4 separate regions of the Homo sapiens genome follow, and regions 1, 3 and 4 are each linked to region 2. Evidence: fine-mapped QTL for protein levels in blood plasma. A gene starts in region 2. Each other region holds a variant in brackets. All regions are shown on one strand. Distances are from middle to middle. Region 1 overlaps PTPN9 (protein tyrosine phosphatase non-receptor type 9). Region 2 holds the start of MPI (mannose phosphate isomerase). Region 3 has its middle 14 kb from the start of CYP1A2. Region 4 has its middle 11 kb from the start of PTPN9.

What was found. PIP is the chance, under the fine-mapping model, that this variant and not a neighbour inherited with it causes the effect. The UK Biobank Pharma Proteomics Project read protein levels with antibody pairs (Olink). The fine-mapping took linkage between variants from a reference panel, not from the people measured, so its PIPs are less certain.
Region 1: its variant is fine-mapped to the plasma level of the MPI protein (UK Biobank, PIP above 0.99).
Region 3: its variant is fine-mapped to the plasma level of the MPI protein (UK Biobank, PIP above 0.99).
Region 4: its variant is fine-mapped to the plasma level of the MPI protein (UK Biobank, PIP 0.91).

What each region holds. Positions count from the first base shown.
Region 1 is chr15:75,495,245-75,500,398 of GRCh38, forward strand. All of the region lies in intron 7 of PTPN9 (protein tyrosine phosphatase non-receptor type 9), which reads right to left. It overlaps LOC105370902 (a long non-coding RNA gene), which reads left to right. Exons shown (of 4, transcript XR_932482.2): 3 at 3,818-3,959. Among named protein-coding and RNA genes, the nearest start is that of SIN3A, 46 kb to the left of the region's middle. The variant C/T (reference allele first, on the strand shown) is at 2,489.
Region 2 is chr15:74,886,099-74,891,245 of GRCh38, forward strand. MPI (mannose phosphate isomerase) reads left to right here and starts at 3,944. Exons shown (of 8, transcript NM_002435.3): 1 at 3,944-3,991; 2 at 4,429-4,556. The coding sequence starts at 3,976. RefSeq lists enhancers at 3,561-3,610, 3,771-4,070, 3,860-4,393, 4,191-4,270.
Region 3 is chr15:74,760,164-74,765,317 of GRCh38, forward strand. No RefSeq gene overlaps it. Among named protein-coding and RNA genes, the nearest start is that of CYP1A2, 14 kb to the left of the region's middle. RefSeq lists an enhancer at 3,464-3,578 and a cis regulatory region at 3,471-3,569. The variant G/C (reference allele first, on the strand shown) is at 2,362.
Region 4 is chr15:75,587,336-75,592,489 of GRCh38, forward strand. No RefSeq gene overlaps it. Among named protein-coding and RNA genes, the nearest start is that of PTPN9, 11 kb to the left of the region's middle. The variant G/GA (reference allele first, on the strand shown) is at 2,745.

The sequences.
Region 1 (5,154 bases), 610 kb after region 2:
AACTGAGGAACAAGCCTAGAGAATAACCAACCACAGTTTAGACTAGAATGAAAGAAAAAGTTCTGAAAGTGAGGTCTCAGGAAAAAAAAAATAGATGCAATTGATTATCTGATACATTCAATCACTTGGAAACTAATGATAACACTGTAAAATAAATCTGATTGGGCATATAGAAAAATAATGAAGGGCCAAGCACGGTGGCTCACACCTACAATCCCAGCACTTTGGGAGGCCAAGGTGGGCAGATCACTTGAGGTCAGGAGTTCGAAACCAGCCTAGCCAACATAGTGAAACCATGTCTCTACTAAAAATAACAAAAAACATTAGCTGGGCAAGGTGGCAGGTGCCTATAATCCCAGCTACTCAGGAGGCTGAGATATGAGAATCGCTTGAACCCAGGGTGTGGAGGTTGCAGTGAGCCGAGATCGCGCCACTACACTCCAGCCTGGGCAACATCAAAACAACAACCACAACAACAAAACAAAACAACAACAACAACAATAAAAAACAAAAGAAAAAGAATGAGGAACATATACAGAAAACTAAAGGAAATGAAAAAATCTGGTAATTAACTCCAGAAGAAACAAAAAATTGAATTGATAAGATCATTAGGCCAGGTGTAGTGGCTCATTCCTGTAATCCCAGTATTTTGGGAGGCTGAGGCAGGTGGACTGCCTGAGCTCAGGAGTTTGGGACCAGCCTGGGCAACATGGCGAAACCCCATCTCTACCAAAAATACAAAAAATTAGCCAGACGTGGTGAAGCATGCCTGTGGTCCCAGCTACTCTGGAGGCTGAGGTGAGAGAATTGCTTGAGTTTGGGAAGCAGAGGTTGCAGTGAGCTGAGATAGAGCCACTGTACTCCAACCTGGGTGAGAGAGTGAGAGCCTGTCTCAAAAAAAAAAAAAAAGGCTGGACGTAGTGGTTCACACCTGTAATCCCAGCACTTTGGGAGGCCGAGGCAGGTGAATCACTTGAGGCCAGGATTTTGAGACCAGCCTGGCCAACATGGTGAAATCCCATCTGTTCTAAAAATTAAAAAAAAAAAAAAAATTGTTAATATATTTGATCATTTCATAGTAGCCCATGTAGCTCTCCAGTAAAAATAATTTACATAGTCATAATAATGTACAATGACGATTCAATTTAAGAATGTTACATATAATTATTGGAAGAGTAGTCAAAATGAAAGTGGAGACATAGTATAAGAGCTAAATGAGCACCTACAATAAAAGTCACTAAAAGTATTATTAACTTTTTTTTTTTTTTTTGAGACAGGGTCTCGCTCTGTATTCCAAGCTGGAGTCCAGTGGCACAATTTTGGCTCACTGCAGCCTCAACGTCCCAGGCTCAAGTGAGCTTCCCACCTCAGCCTCCCAAGTAGCTGGGATTACAAACACACGCCACCACACCAAGCTAATTTTTGTAATTTTTGTAGAGACAGGGTTTCCACCTGTCTCTACATGTTGCTCAGGCTGGTCTTGAAATCCTAGGCTCAAACGATCTACCCACCTCAGCCTCCCAAAGTGCTGGGATTACAGGCATGAGCCACTGTGCCTGGCATATTATAAGCATTTTAATTTAGAATTAGGGATGAAATACCAGGGGAAACAGCTACAAGAGTTGAATACATGATTATAGGTAATGGAACTGAGGGTAAAATAGGAATTTGCTATTTATTTTGTCATTGCTTGTCTTCTTTAGAACTGTTTGGTTTTGAAAAAAATTATTTGCATATATTAACTGAAAGCAAAGAAATTACAAAGGTCACACATATAAAATAATACTCTATATTGTTCATGAGTGCTTATGCATATATAACAGTATAAACAAAATCAACTAGAAAGAAATATCATATTCATACTAGTAGCTGCTTATGATGAGTGGGGAGAACTAAGGATGCGGATTAGAAGGAATTTCAACTTTATAATAAATTCTTTCTCTCATATAATAATTAAAAAGACAGCTGGGCACAGTGGCTCATGCCTAAAATCCTAGTGCTTTGGGAGGCTGAGGTGGGAGAATCACTTGAGCCCAGGAGTTTGAGACCAGCCTGGGCAACAGAGCAAGACTCCATCTCTACAAAAACTTCAAAAAAATTAGCAAGGTGTGGCACCCCATACTTCTTGTCCCAGCTACTAGGAAGGCTAAGGCAAGAAAATCACTTGAGCCCAGGAGGTTAAGGCTGCCATAAGCTATGACAGTGCCACTGCACCTGCACTCCAACCTATGCGACAGAGCAAGAACACATGTCTCTCTTAAAAAGAAAGAAAAAGGCCAGGTGTGGGGGCTCATGCCTGTAATTCCAGCACTTTAGGAGGCCAAGGTGGGTGGATCACCTGACGTGAGGAGCTCGAGACCACTCTGACCAACATGGCGAAACCCCGTCTCTATGAAAAATACAAAAAATTAGCTGGGCTTGGTAGCGGGCACCTGTAATCCCAGCTACTTGGGAGGCTAAGGCAGGAGAATCGCTTGAACCCAGGAGG[C/T]GGAGGTTGCAGTGAGCTGAAGTCACACCATTGCACTCCAGCCTGGGCAACAAGAGCAAAACTCTGTCTCAAAAAAAAAAAAAAAAAGATGAAGCAAATATAACAAAATATTAACAAGAGTCAGTGTTGATTCTGTGGTAGGAACATAGTTGTCTGTAAAATCTTAAAAAATTTCAGCCCAGCGCAGTGGCTCATGCCTGTAATCCCAGCACTTTGGGAGGCTGAGGCTGGCGGATCACCTGAGGTCAGGAGTTGGAGACCAGCCTAGTCAATATGGTGAAACCCCATCTTTACTAAAAATACAAAAAAAAAAATTAGCTGGGCGTGGTAGCAGGCACCTGTAATCCCAGCTACTTGGGAGACTGAGGCGGGAGATCACTTGAACCCATGAGGCGGAGGTTGCAGCGAGCTGAGATCACGCCACTGAACTCCAGCCTGGGCGACAGAGCGAGACCACATCTCAGAGAAATATATATATATATTTCTCCCTTCCTATACGAATATGCCTAGTGAATAAAACCAATCCTAAAAGATTACATACAGTATGTATGTAATTTTTTTACATTTTATGTAATGTTACTTGATATAACAACAATTTGGAAAGGACAAAATTAGAGAAATGGAGAATAGATTAGTGGTTGCAGGGGTTAGGAATGGGGAGGTGGTGGGAAGGAGGTATATGTTTACTATAGGGCAATGAGGCTGGGCACGGTGGCTCACACCTGTAATCCCAGCACTTTGGGAGGCCGAGGTGAGTGGATCACCTGAGGTCAGGAGTTTGAGATCAGCCTGGCCAACATGGTGAAACCCTGACTGTAGTAAAAATACAAAAATTCGTCAGGCATGGTGGTGCACGCCTGTAATCCCAGCTACTTGGGAGGCTGAGGCAGGAGAATCGCTTGAACCTGGGAGGCAGAGGTTACAGGGAGCTGAGATTGCACCACAGCACTCCAGCTTGGGTGACAGAGCAAGACTCTGTCTTAAAAAAATAAGTAAATAAAAATAAAAATATTGATCGCTTCTCAGTCTTTTGGCTAAGATCAAGTGTAAAATAAAAATAATGAAGGGCAACGAGGGGAGCCTTGTGGTGACAGAACTCTGTATCTTGATTATGGTGACAGATACACAAACCTACATGTGTGACAAAACTGCACAGAACTAAATACACAAAAATGAAGTAAAACTGGGGAAGTCTAAATCAGATTGGTGGATTGTATCTATATTAACATTCTGGCTGTGATATTACACTATAGTTTTGGAAGATGTTATCATGGGATAACTGTAGAAAGGGTACATGTAATCTGTCTCCATTATTTCTTACAACTGCAGGTGAATCTACAATTATAAGAAAAAGTAAAAAGAGAAAAGGGAAAGAAAGTCTCTTGGTCCAGGGGAATCCTGGGCAAGAGTGAATATACACTGATAGCCACTTCATAATCCAGAATTCCAAGGGAGACACAGTTTGTTCTTTGTAAGTAGCTCTACTGGGAGTTGGTGTAAGTCAGAGGCTTGGAGCTGATGAGGATTCTAGGTTCTAAATCATAAAGTGGGGAATCAGTCATTCAATAGGCAAGACTAGGAAGTCCTCTCATTAGATGAGAGATCTGTTCTCTGATTGTCAAATGGTAGCTGGTTTGGATGATGGCAACAAGACGATCTAAACCCACTTTTTTTTTTTTTTTTTTTTTTTTGAGACAGAGTCTTGCTCTATCGCCCAGGCTGGAGTGCGGTGGCATGATCTTGGCTCACAGCAACCTCCGCCTCCTGGGCTCAAGTGATTCTCCTGCCTCAGCCTCCCAAGTAGCTGGGACTACAGGTGCGTGCCACCACACCCAGCTAATTTTTGTATTATTAGAAGAGACGGGGTTTCACCATGTTGGCCAGGATGTTCTCAATCTCTTGACCTCGTGATCTGCCAGCCTCAACCTCCCAAAGTGCTGCGATTACAGGCGTGAGCCACCGCGCCCAGCCAAACCCACTTTTTTAATGGAGGAGGGGAGACTCCATAGTAGAAATGACATCTCAAGGGCCTCACAGCAGCTGGTAGTTGCAAAAGCACCGAGAGCAAGGTGAAGAATCCCCAGGATAAGTGTGCATCCTCTTAGATCAGCCTAGCATGCCTCCCTGCTCCAACATATTTCCTTGATTCAAGACTGCAAGGGAGGCTGGGCATAGTGGCTCATGCCTGTAATCCCAGCACTTTGCAGGGCTGAGGTGGGCAGATCACTTGAGGTCAGGAGTTCGAGATCAGCCTGGCCAACATGGCAAAACCCCATCTCTACTAAAAATACACAAATTAGGCCAGGCATGGTGGCTCACGCCTGTAATCCTAGCACTTTGGGAAGCCAAGGAGGACGAATCACCCGAGGTCAGGAGTTTGAGACCAGCCTGGCCAACACAGTGAAACCCCATCTCTACTAAAAATACAAAATTAACCGGGTGTGGTGGCACACGCCTGTAATCCCAGCTACTCAGGAGGCTGAGGCAGGAGAATTGCTTGAGCCGGGAGATGGAGGTTGCAGTGGGCTGAGATCGTGGCACTGCACTCTAGCCTGGCCGAGAGTGAGACTCTGTCTCAAAATAAATAAATAAATAAATAAACAAACATACATACACACACACACACACACACACACACATATATATACACACACAAATTAGTTGGG
Region 2 (5,147 bases):
TCTATCTCATGATCTGCCCGCCTTGGCCTCCCAAAGTGCTGGGATTACAGGCATGAGCCACCACGCCCAGCCCCTATCTTTAGTTTTTATAGAGAACTAAACATCTTGTGACTCTGGCTTACTTGGGTGGCTGCTTAAGTTACTATTACCTTCTTCCTTGGTGGGTTATTCATTTACTTCCCTAATTGCTGGGTGCAGGGCTAGCTAGTTCCTGAAATCTCCCTTGAAGGGACTCAAAATTTTCCCTTTATCTCCATACTTGCGGGCCAGAGGGGCACCTAAGAAGGGTCTGTCCTCCATATCAATGTCTCTCTGGGCCTGATAATATAAAAGGATGCACATTCCTCAGATAAAATCTCTTTTCTCAAGATAGACCAGCAAGAGGGAAGAAGTAGAAGGTTCTAGGTTCTCCAAACACCCTAGTTTCTCTTACAGATAAGTTTTTCTGTATTGGGGGAGGGTGGCATGGGGTTGGGGGGTGGTCTGTATCTCCCAACAATCTAAGTTCTTCCTTCACTTTGCAGGGATACTATGAGCAAATAACCCTGACTCTGTTTTCTGTGGTAGTGGTAGTGGGGAGTGCTCCAAGAACTCCTTGAGCCTCATTAGTCCCTCGTTCTTATCTGAGAAGGTTCCTATTGCTTGGTGTATTAGTCCGTTTTCATGCTGCTATAAAGATACTACCTGAATTGGGTAATTTATAAAGAAAGGAGGTTTGGGCCAGGCATGGTGGCTCATGCCTGTAACCCAGCACTTTGGGAGGCTGAGGTGGGTGGATCACCTGCAGTCAGGATTTTGAGACCAGCCTGGCCAACATGGTGAAACCCCGTCTCTACTAAAAATACAAAAATTAGCCGGGCATGGTGGCACGTGCCTGTAGTCCCAGCTATTTGGGAGGCTGAGACAGGAGAATCGCTTGAACCCGGGAGGCGGAGGTTGCAGTGAGCCAAGATCGTGCCACTGCACTCTACTCTGGGTGACAGAGTGAGACTCCATCTCAAAAAAAAAAAAAAAAGGAGGTTTGGCCTGACGCGGTGGCTCATGCCTGTAATCTCAGCACTTTGGGAAGTCAAGGCAGGTGGATCACCTGAGGTCAGGAGTTCGAGACCAGCCTGGGCAAAATGGTGAAACCTCGCCTCTACTAAAAATACAAAAATTAGCCGGGCATGGTGGTGTGCACCCAGCTACTTGGGTGGCTGAGGCAGGAGAATCACTTGAACCTGGGAAACAGAGCTTGCAGTGAGCTGAGATCATGCCACTGCACTCCAGCCTGGGCAACGGAGCAAGACTCAATACTCAAAAAGAAAAAATAAAAAAAAAGAAAGGAGGTTTAATTGACTCACAGTTCTACATGGCTGGGGAGGCCTCAGGAGCTTATAATCATGACAGAAGGCAAAGGGGAAGCGAGGCACATCTTAGATGGCAGTAGGAGAGAGAGCGAGAAAGTGCCACACTTTAAAACCATCAGCTCTTGGGAGAACTCACTCACTATCATGAGAACAGCATGGGGGAAACCACCCCCATGATCCAATCACCTCCCACCAGGTCCCTCCCTCAACATGTGGGGATTACAATTCAAGATGAGATTTGGGTGGGGACACAGAGCCAAATCATATCACTTGGGTAGTGGAGATGAGGGAAAGGAGTGGTATTCCAAAGCACGAGGTATTGAGTACGTTGTTTCATGAGTCTTTTTTTTTTTTATTTATTTTTTATTTTTTTATTGATCATTCTTGGGTGTTTCTCGCAGAGGGGGATTTGGCAGGGTCACAGGACAACAGTGGAGGGAAGGTCAGCAGATAAACAAGTGAACAAAGGTCTCTGGTCTTCCTAGGCAGAGGACCCTGCGGCCTTCCGCAGTGTTTGTGTCCCTGGGTACTTGAGATTAGGGAGTGGTGATGACTCTTAACGAGCATGCTGCCTTCAAGCGTCTGTTTAACAAAGCACATCTTGCACCGCCCTTAATCCATTAACCCTGAGTGGACACAGCACATGTTTCAGAGAGCACAGGGTTGGGGGTAAGGTCACCGATCAACAGGATCCCAAGGCAGAAGAATTTTTCTTAGTACAGAACAAAATGAAAAGTCTCCCATGTCTACCTCTTTCTACACAGACACGGCAACCATCCGATTTCTCAATCTTTCCCCCACCTTTCCCCCCTTTCTATTCCACAGAACTGCCATTGTCATCATGGCCCGTTCTCAATGAGCTGTTGGGTACACCTCCCAGACGGGGTGGTGGCCGGGCAGAGGGGCTCCTCACTTCCCAGTAGGGGCGGCCGGGCAGAGGCGCCCCTCACCTCCCGGACGGGGTGGCTGGCCGGGCGGGGGGCTGACCCCCCTACCTCCCTCCCGGACGGGGCAGCTGGCTGGGCAGAGGGGCTCCTCACTTCCCAGTAGGGGCGGCCGGGCAGAGGCGCCCCTCACCTCCCGGACGGGGCGGCTGGCCGGGCTGGGGGCTGACCCCCCCACCTCCCTCCCGGACGGGGCGGCTGGCCAGGCGGGGGGCTGTCATGAGTCTTGTATTATCCATTTTATTATTCCTTAGTGCATGGTAAAGCTTCCTTTAAAATGCAAGCTGATTTATTTGAGCCAGAGGACCCCAGGGGAGGTGAGATAGATACCCACACCTGGGCAGAGGATTACAGGGAAAACGGCACCCGCTCTTTCCCCTGGGCACATATGGTAGAGGCTGTGGGAATGAGGGTATTGCAGGGGTGATGAGGGTAGAGTCAGGACTGTAACTCCTCATTCCAGGTTCCCCGGAGCTTTGACTGTTGTGCTCCTAGCCTCAAGCAATCCTTCTGCCTCTGCCTCCTAAGGTGCTAGGATTACAGGCCTGAGCCACTGACTGTCCTCCTCCTAGGAGGCTGTTGACTGAGAAGGTCTGGATGTCAAAGCCTTTCACCACAGGATATAGCCAAGATTACTGCAGAGCCAAGGCCCAAGGCCATCCTTCCCTATGCACAGCTCTTCGTAATTCCCCTGACTTCTGTGTGTGCAACTTGTAAGCAGCTCAGCCTGGAGTAGAAGTTGGGGTTCTGACTTTCTACAGCACCTGGGACGGGAAGGATCAGAGGAGCACAGGGAGCTGACTGCCTTATAGGTGTCTCACGTCATCCCATCTGACCCTCCAACAAGCATGTCAGGCTGGCATTATTCACCCCATTCTACAAAGCTCAGAGCAGTGAAGGGCCTTGCATGTGACATTTACCATCATCATCACTAGTATGTCCCTACTCACATCACAGCAATTCTTTGCTCAAATCTGTAATTGCTGAGACTCGAAGTAAAACCCAAAGTCTTCACAATAGCAATAGCCTGCAAAGCTCTGCCCCCCTCCTCTCTTCTCTGACCTCCTCACTGCCCCTGTCTTACTCACTCTGCTCCAGCCACAGTGGCCTCCTTGCTAGCAGTTCCCTCCCCAACACGCCCGGCACAGTCCCACATTCCCGCCTTGCTCTGGCTTCCGCTGTGGCTGTTTCCTCCCCGCAGAACACTCCTGCCTTCCTCACCGCCAAGTCTGGACTCAAACCTCACCTCCTCAAGAGGCTTGCCCAGACAGCCTTTTATATTCTGCAAACTGCCTCCCACTGCCACCTGCCCCCTTACTTTTTGTGGCCTTGACCTTTCAACATACTACATGATTTGCTTACAATACTTGTCTGTCTTGCCTTCACCAGAATGTAAGCGCTCTACAAAGGCAGAGGGAAGGCTATCTTGCTCTCTGATGTATCCTCCAGCCCTTAGAACAGTCCGTGGTACTTAGCAGGTTTTCAGTACATCTGTGCCCGGCGATGGAAAGAATGAATGAATAGTGAGACCGAAGATCGCGGCCGTAAGCCTCTGGGCACGGGTGCCCCGGGGCCTGGCGGAACGCTCAGGGAACTACATTTCCCGTGAAGCTCTGGGCGCAGAGGGCCGCGGGGGCTGCCGGGAAAGGCATACGTGCTTAATCCTGGTGCAGGGGGCGAGCATGGCCGCTCCGCGAGGTGAGCCATTGGCTGGGGTGTCGGCGAGTGTGTTCGTGGAGCGCGTCCTGGGGACGACTCCCGGCATTATCGGCCAGGTTGAGTCCGCTCCTGGCATTCCGCGGAAAGATGGGTGGGTGCCGGGCAGAGGTGTGGCCACCTGCGATGGGGATTGACCTCCGAGGGGAGGGGGCCCTTCTAGACGTCGTGCCGTGGGATAGGTACCTTCTGCTCCCTCCCCGCCACCCTGCCTCAGATCAGCACAAGGTCCTTACTGCTGCCCATCTGACAGTTGGGAACATCGAGGCCTGCAGCGGAGGGGGGTCTCATCCAACAGCCTACAAAACCCTTATTTGACTCTGTCCCCAGTGAGCACCCCCAGCTCTTGCCTGGTTTCCCGGGACACTAGGGTGGGGCCTGAGGAGTGGAGTGGCAGCTGACCCTGTCTGTGCCCCTAGTATTCCCACTTTCCTGTGCGGTGCAGCAGTATGCCTGGGGGAAGATGGGTTCCAACAGCGAAGTGGCGCGGCTGTTGGCCAGCAGTGATCCACTGGCCCAGATCGCAGAGGACAAGCCTTATGCAGAGGTGAGCCCCGGGCTGTATTTCAGCCCACTTTACCCGCAGGTCAGGAGAAAGGGCCTGAGGCAAGTCATAAGAATCAGCTGGGAAGGGTGAGGCAGCAAGGAGGGAGGAGACCCACTTGGCTCTTCAGGCTAATGGACTAGATAGTGTTATCAAAAAGAAGAGAGGTTTTGTCATAATAGGCTGGGATTTCCAGCACTCTCCTTCCCCCAACCACTCTTAGCACTTAGTGAATTTTAATTCAGCCCTCTTTGACAATTAAGTTTTTTTACTTTGACTATTTTTTTGCATTTTTATTAACCTAAAATATTTCTCCTGCCTATTTAGTGGAGAAAAAGCCAAAGCATAGGAAGGCTTTCGCCTCTGCTTCTGAAACTGGAAGATGTATGTTAACCCCTGAAAGAATCATTTAAGAGTCATAGTTTTTCTGCTACCTTGACAGTGCAGATGTCATTCTCCTCTTTGGACAGACAAAGAAGATACATCTAAAGAAGGGAAATAACTAGTCCAAGTCTTCATAGATGGCTAGAGGCCGAGTCTGGACAAGGGCCTGGGTCTACTGCCTCCCTGTATGTCCATGATGGCATGAACATT
Region 3 (5,154 bases), 130 kb before region 2:
CCGGGGACGGTCTCGATCTCCTGACCTCGTGATCCGCCCGCCTCCCAAAGTGCTGGGATTACAGGCGTGAGCCACCGCGCCCAGCCTAGTTTCAGCTTCTTGAGAGAGGGGTTTGATTGGCTCAGCTCATCTTTTTCAGCCAGGCTACACAGGTCAGAGACCACAGTCAGTCAGTGGTTGGGTCCCCTTGGAGCAATGTTTACCCTGGTAAATAGCCACAGGCAACAGAGTGAGGGTCACAGGGTCTAAGCTACCTCAGCAAGGGATCCCTGCACACAAGTCCTGGAAGAAACAATGGCACAGCGGAAAGCTAGCGGAACACACAAAAGCCTCCATTTGTCACTTTTCTGCTCTGCCCACCTCTCCTCACACCCACACTACAAAGAAAATTATCTTTGCTCTCATCTTTTCCCGTGACTCCCAGGTTGAGACCTCCTAACAACAAATTAGAAATAGCTTTAACACACACCCCATTGCAAACCAGCTTACACTGCTCTAACTAAGGTTGGAACACTGGGTCAGGTGGTCTTGCCTGGCTCTTTTTTCCCTAAGGGTGACCTCCCTCCCAGGATTCCACTCAGTCCCTATGCAAATGAACTCAGTCACTGGGGTCTCCCTCACCCAGATCTGCCCAGATAAATCTCAGCCTCTCTCTCTCTTTTTTTTTTTTAGGTGGAGTCTTGCTCTGTCGCCCAGGCTGGAGTGCAGTGGTGCGATCTCGGCTCACTGAAACCTCCGCCTCCTGGATTCAAGAAATTCTCCTGCCTCAGCCTCCCAAGTAGCTGGGACGACAGGCATGTGCCACCATGCCCAGCCAATTTTTTTTTTTTTGAGATGGAGTCGCGCTCTGTCGCCCAGGCTGGAGTGCAGTGGTGCGATCTCAGCTCACTGCAAGCTCTGCCTCCTGGGTTCACACCATTCTCCTGCGTCAGCCTCCTGAGTAGCTGGGACTACAGGCGCCCGCCACCACACCTGGCTAATTTTTTGTATTTTTAGTAGAGACGGGATTTCACCGTGTTAGCCAGGATGGTCTCGATCTCCTGACCTCGTGATCCGCCTGCCTCGGCCTCCCAAAGTGCTGGGATTACAGGCGTGAGCCACCGTGCCCGGCCAATTTTTGTATTTTTATTAGAGTATGGGATTTTACCATGTTGTCCAGGCTGGTCTCGAACTCCTGATCTCAGGTGATCCACCCACCTCGGTCTCCCCAAGTGCTGCAATTATAGGCATGAGCCACCATGCCCAGCCAAATCTCAGTCTTAAAGTAACTTGCCCCCCAAGGAAGGATTTTCCAGTTGACAAAGGAATCTGAGGAGGGTGCAGACTCTCTGAAAGAATGGTAGTGAGTATACCATCTGGGTGGGGGAACCAAGCAGAGGCTGACTAGACCAGGGTTTATGCAGTTCAGCGTCAGTCCATGAGCTTGCCCTATATCTTATCCCTATCACTGGCTCCTGTCCCTGAGAGGGGACTGCCACCAGAGGTAGCCATACCCTGAGCCAAGCTCCCCATTCTTTAGTGATCCCCCTCAAAATTAGTTCTGAGACCCTGCATTCTGTCCACCCCTCTGCCATGACATAACACCAGGTTCACTAGAGTCCTCTGGAGTACAGCTGCGATGGAGCCTCTCAGGCAGTGCAATGGGGCGGAGGGGGGCACTTTTGGGCAAGGAGCCTGCCCGATGCCCATCACCCTGCACTAATAAGGGAAGCAGACTCTGCTCTGCATTGAGGGACCTGCACTCTCCCTGTGGGCCCTGCAGCCCAGCGGGTTTTTCTGGGTTTAAGATAACATAGTGGCATAGGTGATACTCAATAGGTTCCCCCAGGCCTTCACCTCTGTATTTACCCCTCCACCCCAGGCCAGTATTAAGATAATTACAGGGCTTGGGAAAGGGAAAAGAGATGAGACCAGAGGCTGGCTCACAGATCCAGAAGAAAATCCCAGCTCACCCACTAACCTTGGGCCTGTGACATAAACTTTCTGAGTCTAGACTTTCTCATCTCGCAACTGGGGATGATAATCTTATCTTACAGGTTGGGTGGGAGGTTTAATGAGATAATGTGTGTAAAGTGCCAAATTACAGGTCAGGGTACAACACACACACACACACACACACACACACACACACACACACACACACCAGAAATCCTGAGAAAGGTGGACTCAGGGCAAGATGGACCCCCGACACACGTGTGGCATGTGCAGCTGTGCACACACCAGGCCCACACGTGAGCCAGCATTTCCCCAAACCCTGCGCTCTCTCACTGGGGTCTTGCCAGGGCCTGGGCTCAGCCCACTTCCTTCCACTGCTCCCCCCACCCAGAAGCTGGGGAGGGCTGGGGGTGGTAGCGTGCCAGG[G/C]AACAATGGGCCCCCAACCCCTTCCCGCCCATTGCGTGAGAAGGAGCTGCCGGAAGGAAACTCACCTCCCAGTGGGACAGGCCGCCGCCCCCCTGACGTCTGCCCCAGGGAAGTCTGGAGACCCCCATGCTGCTCAAGGGGCGGGCCTCTGTGCACTCCAGGCCTGCCACCCTTGGGACATCCTGTTTTCACCACCTGGACTGGCTTCCCCCGCCCCCTCTTTCAGAGAAGATGGTCCCAGACCCTCTCTCTGGGGCTGGGCTGGGTTCCCCACAAGAGTCTAGGGCCCTGTTCTCATTCATCTCTGTGTCCCCCGTGTGTAGCCTGTTCCGGAGTCGTCTCGAGGAATGCTGGCCAACTGCATGAGAGGCTGAGGGAAAGGAGCCAGACTAGGGGTGATCAGGGACCCAGCAGCTGAGCCAGAAAACATGAGAGAGAGAAGGGCCCAGCTCAGAGTGGCCAAAACGCCTGTGCTGCAGATAGGGGTGTGGTCCCAGAAATGCCTCTGGAGAGCACAGGGCATGCTGTTGAGGGCTGGGGGATGCTCTCCCCCCAAATTTTTGGAACACTCAGCTCAGTTTCATTTGTGTAGTGACACTTCCCTTACAGGCCCGCATTCCTCTCTCTCTCTCATACACAATCACACTCATTCCAGGGGTCTCAGCAGCTCCACCATCAGATGGGGGCTCTTAAAGGCAGGGGTCAGGGAGGAGGCCAGGAGCAGATGAGGAGCTGTTCTTGCACCGTGCCTATCCACACTTAGCAGGATAGCTCAGAGGGTCCCCACCAGGCTGGCTGCTGACCAGAAACTCTGGACATCAATTTCCCCAGCTAGAAAATATGAAGAGTTGGGGGGCCTGGCTGAAACTGACCCTGCCCTGGGCCTTGCTGACCTGGGGTGGCCCAGCTGAAAGTGCCAGTGGGCCGGCAGGGGCTGGGAGCAGGCGTGGGCACGCATTTTGAACCCTAGTCTCGGGTGTGTCGATAAGGCAACAACAGACGTGAGTGCCAGCTCTCAGCGGGTGCATGCGCATGGGCAGATGTGGCCTGGAGTGGTCAGGTGGATGCCTGTGCGTGAGTTCTCCAGGTGTCAGTTCAGGTGGCTCAGCACGCCAGCCAGGTATGTGCGTGTTTGTAGCCAGGCATGTGTTTACAGGTGTGCCTCTATCTCCTGTGCCCTCAGGGCCAAGGGAGCCGCTGGCTCGCGTGTCTGAGAGTCCTTCTTGCCGTGAGAATCATGGAATCTCAAAGTCCCCAGATTAGTGCTTCCTCCAAGGTGGGGGCTGGAGTGGGGTGGCTGGCTGGGTAATCAGGCAGGTTTGGGAAGCATGCTTCTGCTCCTGCTGGCGGGCCATGGTTACATCTGAGGGCTGGGAGACCTGGACTGGTAACTCTACCTCCTTGGACAGCAGTAGTGGGGGGCGGGAAGCTGAGGCCCTGCCCAGAGTTTTGGGGGTCCACAGTGATAAAACAAGTAGCTGAGCACAGTTGGGCAAATTTCAGCAACCATCGCACACCAGACAGGCTGCGCTCTGGGTCAGTGCCTCCACCACAAACTCGGCTCACTGCAAGCTCTGCCTCCCAGGTTCACGCCATTCTCCTGCCTCAGCCTCCCGAGTAGCTGGGACTACAGGCGCCCGCCACCACGCCCGGCTAATATTTTTGTATTTTTAGTAGAGATGGGGTTTCACCGCGTTAGCCAGGATGGTCTCGATCTCCTGACCTCGTGTTCTGCCCGCCTTGGCCTCCCAAAGTGCTGGGATTACAGGCGTGAGCCACCGCACCTGGCAATTTTTTGTATTTTTTAGTAGAGACGGGGTTTCACCGTGTTTGCCAGGATGGTCTTGATCTCCTGACCTGGTGATCCGCCCGCCTTGGCCTCCCAAAGTGCTGGGATTACAGGTGTGAGCCACCACACCTGGCAAGGAATTGATTTTTTTAAAGTAGTATGAGAGTGGAGAAAGCCTTTCTAAGTTTGACACAGGTCCAGAAGCGGCAAAAGAAAAGACTGATTCCACTGCATAAAAATCAATCATTTCTGCATTCCAAAGAATCATAACCAAGTTGGAAGACACACAAGGAACATAAGCCGGTTGGCTTCCAGTTCTCCCCTTCAGTCCCCCTCCATCCCGTGCTCTGTGAGGGGAAGCTGACCTGTGGGGCTTCTATCCACAGACTCCCTGGCCCTCTGGCTCCTAGACGGGTTCATAGAATGGAGGCTCTCACAGGAGATGGGGATGTGTCCTCTGAGGCAATCCTCTCCATGCAGCTCTTTCCCCCAGTAGCATTCTTCAGGCACTACCCTCTCAGGGCCCCCACCGTTCCCTGCCTAACCCCGTGTAATAATCTCTGTATTAATCCTTCCTCGAATTAAACTGTTTCCTGCTGGGGACCCTGAATGATGCACAGATTAAAGGTTAATTTCTTTAATATATAGAGTTCCTATTAAAAAAAAAAAATCCAGGCCGGGCGCAGTGGCTCATGCCTGTAATCCCAGCACTTTGGGAGGCCAAGGCGGGCGGATCACGAGGTCAGGAGTTCGAGACCAGCCTGGCCAATATGGTGAAACCCCCGTCTCTACTAAACATACAAAAGTTAGCCGGGCGTGGTGGCACGTGCCTGTAATCCCAACTACTCAGGGGGTTGAGGCAGGAGAATTGCTTGAACCAGGGAGGCGGAGGTTGCAGTGAGCTGAGATCGCGCCACTGCACTCCAGGCTGGGTGACAGAGCAAGACTCCATGTCAAAAAACAAAAAGCAAAAAAAAAAAAAAAAACAACAATCCAGTAAAAAA
Region 4 (5,154 bases), 700 kb after region 2:
CACTGCTTTTGGTGTTTTAGTCATGAAGTCCTTGCCCACGCCTATGTCCTGAATGGTATTGCCTAGGTTTTCTTCTAGGGTTTTTATGGTTTTAGGTCTAACATTTAAGTCTTTAATCCATCTTGAATTAATTTTTGTATAAGGTGTAAGGAAGGGATGCAGTTTCAGCTTTCTACATATATATCCGGCTAATTTTTGTATTTTTAGTAGAGACAGGCTTTCGCCATGTTGACCAGGCTGGTCTCGAACTCCTAACCTCAGGTGATCTGCCCGCCTTGGCCTCCCAAAGTGCTGGGATTACAGGCGTGAGCCACCGCGCCCGGCCCAAAACAGACGTTTTGTTTTGTTTTTCTGAGAGAGAGTCTCAATCTATCACCCGGGCTGGAGTGCAGTGATGCGATCTCAGCTCACTGCAACCTCCGCCTCCTGGGTTCAAGCAATTCTCATGCCTCAGCCTCCTGAGTAGCTGGGATTACAGGCGCCCACCACCATGCCCAGCTAATTTTTGTATTTTTAGTAGAGATGGGGTTTCACCATATTGTCCAGGCTGGTCTTGAACACCTGACCTCAGATGATACACCCACTTCAGCCTCTCCAAGTGCTGGGATTACATGCGTGAGCCACCACACCCAGCCCAGAACAGACATTTTATAAAATAAGACATTTAAATCTCAACAGGCATATAAAAAGATGCTTAACTTCACTGATCATCAGAGAAATGCAAATCGAAACTACAATGAGGCCAGGCATGGTGGCTCATGCCTTTAATCTCAGCACTTTGGGAGGCCGAGGCAGGTGGATCACTTGAGGTCAGGAGTTCAAGACCAGCCTGGCCAACATGGTGAAACCTCGTCTCTACTAAAAATACAAATATTAGCAGGGCACAGTGGTGCACACCTGTAATCCCAGCTACTCAGGAGGATGAAACAGGAGAATCGCTTGAACCCGGGAGGCGGATTGCGCCACTGCACTCCAGCCTGGGCAACAGAGTGAGACTCTATCTCAAAATAAATAAATAAATAAAATAAAATAAAATTACAATGAGATACCATCTCACCCCAGTTAAAATGGTTTTTATCCAAAAGACAGGCAATAACAAATGCTGGCAAGGATGTGGAGAATAGGGAACCCTCATACACTTTTGGTGGGAATATAAATTAGTACAACCACTATGGAGAACAATTTGGAGGTTCCTAAAGAAAACCTAAAAATATAGCCAGGTGAGGTGGCTCATGCCTGGAGGCTAAGGCAGGAAGATCACTTGAGTCCAAGATTCCAGGAGTTTGAGTCCAGGCTGGGCAACACAGTGAGACCTCATCTGTACAAAATATAAAGAAAATCAGCTAGGAGTAGTGATGCACACCTGTAGTCCCAGGTACTTGGGAGGCTGAGGTGTGAGGATCACTTGAGCCTGGGAAATAAAGGCTGCAGTGAACTGTGATTACACCACTGCACTCCAGCCTGGGCAAGAGAGTCAGACCTTGTTGAAAAGGGAGGAGAGGGGAGGGGAAGGGAAGGGAGGGAAGGTGTAGGGGAAAAGAGGGGTGAGGGGAGGAGGGGGGAAGGAAGGGGAGGGGAAGAAAAGGGGAAGGGAGGAAAAGGGGAGGGGAGGGAAGGAAAGGGGAGGGGAGGGGGGAGAGGAGGAAAAGGGGAGGGAGGAGGGGAAGGAAGGGGAGGGGAAGAGAGGGGAGTGGGAGGGGAGGGGAGAGGGAGGGGAGGAAAGAAAAGAAAAAGCCAAAAATAAAGCTACCAATCCCCCTCCTAGGTATATACCCCAAAGAAAGGAAATCAGTATGTTGAAGAGACATCTGCACTCCCATGTTTACTGCTGCACTATTCACAATAGCTAAAATTTGGAAGCAGCCTAAGTGTTCATCAACATATAAATGGATAAAGAAAATGTGGCACAGATACACAATGGAGAACTATTAAGTCATAAAAAAGAATGAGGCCGGGTACAGTGACTCACGCCTGTAATTTCAGCACTTTGGGAGGCCGAGGGGCAGATCACTTGAGGCCAGGGGTTGAAGACCAGCCTAGCCAACATGATGAATCCCTGTCTCTGTTTAAAAAAATACTAAAAATACAAAAATTAACCGGGTGTGGTGGCGCATACCTGTAATCCCAGCTACTTGGGAGGCTGAGGCATGAGAATCGCTTGAACCTGGGAGGCAGAGGTTGCAGTGAGCCAAGATTGTGCCACTGCACTCCAGACTGGGTGACAGAGTGAGACTCTGTCTCAAAAAAAAAAAAAAAAAAAAAGAGAGAGAGGGATCCTGTCATTTGCAACAACATGGATGGAACTGAAGGTCATTATGTTAAGTGAAATAAGCCAGGCACAGAAAGACAAACTTCCCATGTTCTCACTTATTTTGTAGGAGCTAAAAATTAAAATAATTGAACTCATGGAGATAAAGAGTAGAAGGATGGTAACCAGAGGATGGGAAGGGTAGTGGGGGGTGAGGGAGAAGTGGGGATGGTTAATGGGTACAGAAAAATAGAAAGAATGAATAAGAGCCAGGTGCAATGGCTCATGCCTATAATCCTTGCACTTTGGGAGGCCAAGGCAAGTGGATGGCTTGAGCTCAGGAATTTGAGACCAGCCTAGGCAACATGGCAAGACTCTGTCTCTACTAAAAATACAAAAAAGATCACTTGAGCCTGGGAGGCAGGGGTTGCAGTGAGCTGAGATCACGCCACTGCACTCCAGCCTGGGTGACAGAGTGAGACCCTGTCTCAAATTA[G/GA]AAAAAAAAAAAAGAATGAGTAAGGTGTATTTGCTAGCACAACAGGGTGACTATAGTACAAAATAATTTAATTGTACATTTCAAAATAATTAAGAATATAATTGGATTGTTTGTAACACAAAGGATAAATGCCTGGGATGGATACCCCATTTACCTTGATGTGATTATTATGCGTTGCATGCCTGTATGAAAATATCTCATGTGACCCATAAATATATACATCTACTATGTGATGTACCCACAAAAAAGAAAAAGAGAAAGAAAAAAAATAGCATAAGTTTCAGGTCTCTGTCTAGAAAGCTTATCCTCCCCTCCCAGCACCTTCTTCACCAGACATATCTGATTCATCCTTAAGGTCTCAGCTCAAAAGTCACTTCCCCAGCAAGATCTTCCTTGATTACTCTCTAAACTGAACTGCACTTTCTGAGACTCATAGCACCCTTTTATTCGTCAGAGAGCTGATCACAATTTGTAATTATGCACTTGTTTCTACATTCATTGGCCTAGTGTTTGTGTGCCTTACTAGATTGTAAGCTTCAGGATGGCAGGAACCACATCTGTCCTGTTGGCCCCTGAACTCCCAGCACCTAGAACCTAGAACATAGTAGGCAATCCCTTGATAAATGTGTTGAATGACTGAATCAAGGAAGATGGCCACTTTATCTATGAGACATATCTTACCATTTTCCCCTCTCTTTTGTTGTATTTATTTGGGTTTAAGAATAGACATACTTCCAATGCTGGAGTTGGAATTTTATAACCTTCTCCACCAAACATTTTTATTTCTAAAATCCAAAGCTCCTCTCAAACATTGCTCCAAAATTTCTACTGCCTATAAAAGAGACTTGTGTTGTGCTATAAAGATGATATGAGGCTGGGCGTGGTGGCTCACGCCTGTAATCCCAGCACTTTGGGAGGCTGAGGCGGGTGGATCACGAGGTCAGGAGTTCGAGACCAGCCTGACCAATGTGGTGAAACCCCATCTCTACTAAAAATACAAAAATTAGCTGGGCGTGGTGGCGCGTGCCTGTAATCCCAGCTACTCAGGAGACTGAGGCAGGAGAATTGCTTGAACCCGGGAGGCGGAGGTTGTAGTGAGCCGAGATTGCACCATTGCAATCCAGCCTGGGCTACAGAGCAAGACTCCATCTCAAAAAAAAAAAAAAGATGATTTGGCTATAAAAGATTCACCCCACCCTGCCAAAAGAAAGAAAGGTGGGCACAGTGGTGCACGTCTGTAGCCCCAGACACTCAGGAGGCCGAGATGGGAGGATTGCTTGAGCCCAGGTGTTCAAGACCAGCCTGGGCAATGTAGTTGAGATCCCATCTCTAAAAAATATCTATCTGTATAGAGTGCAATGGTATAATTATAGCTAATTGCAGCTCTAACTCCTGGCCATAGGAGATCCTCCTACCTCAGCCTTCCAAGCAGCTAGGACTACAGGCACCTATCACCATGCCCAACTAATTTTTAAATTTTTTGTAGAGACAAGGTCTCGCTCTGTTGGCCAGGCTGGTCTGGAACTCCTGGCCTCAAGAAATCCTCCTGCCTTGGCCTCCCAAAGCACTGGGATTATAGGTGTGAACCACCATGCCCAGTCTCATTTCTTTATTAGAAAGGACAGCTAGGGTGATTGCCTTTCCCTTTTCCAATGTACAAAGTTAGTTTTTAAGCTATCCTTTTAATCACGTACACAGAACTAAATATAGTTCTTGTTCCTAAAAGTCTGCAGTATATCCAAGCACCTGTTAGCAGCTTGCCACACACCTCCATTTAGCTTTCTCAGCAAGGTCACTCCTCTGTGCAGCAGCAGAGAGGAGGGGCTCTCCTCCAGGGTGCATTCTCATTCCACCTTAGTATTTCTTCATTCACTCAACTAAAAGTTATTGACGTAACAAGTGCCAAGCATAATGCCAGGCACTGGGGACCTAAAGATGAGGAAGACCAGGTTCCTGACCTCATGGAACTTGCTAGCTAATAGAAGGAGTATGTAGTAAAGAACTTAACCTTGCAAAGAGTGTTCTGGCCTTTGCCCTTCGCTCCTGGGAGGTAACCTCTAAGCCCTTGGAATGTCTTGCCTGATAAAAGTATCTTTGTTTACCAGGAGGCAGACCTTAGGCCACACTGGACAGTCTAACAATGTGATTTAGGCAGAAGTCTTTGGGGCGTACCAGATAGTTTAGCAATGTGATGAGGGAGGAGGGAAGACTTTGGATCACACTTTATCAGGTAGACTTATGGAGGGGCTGGAGACTGAGGTCAGTCACATGGGCAGACAATCAGGTCCACATGACTGAGCCCCAATAAAAATTTTAGACATCATTCCAGCCAGACGCGGTGGCTCATGCCTGTAATCCCAGCACTTTGGGAGGCCAAGGTGGGCAGATCACCTGAGGTCAGGAGTTCAAG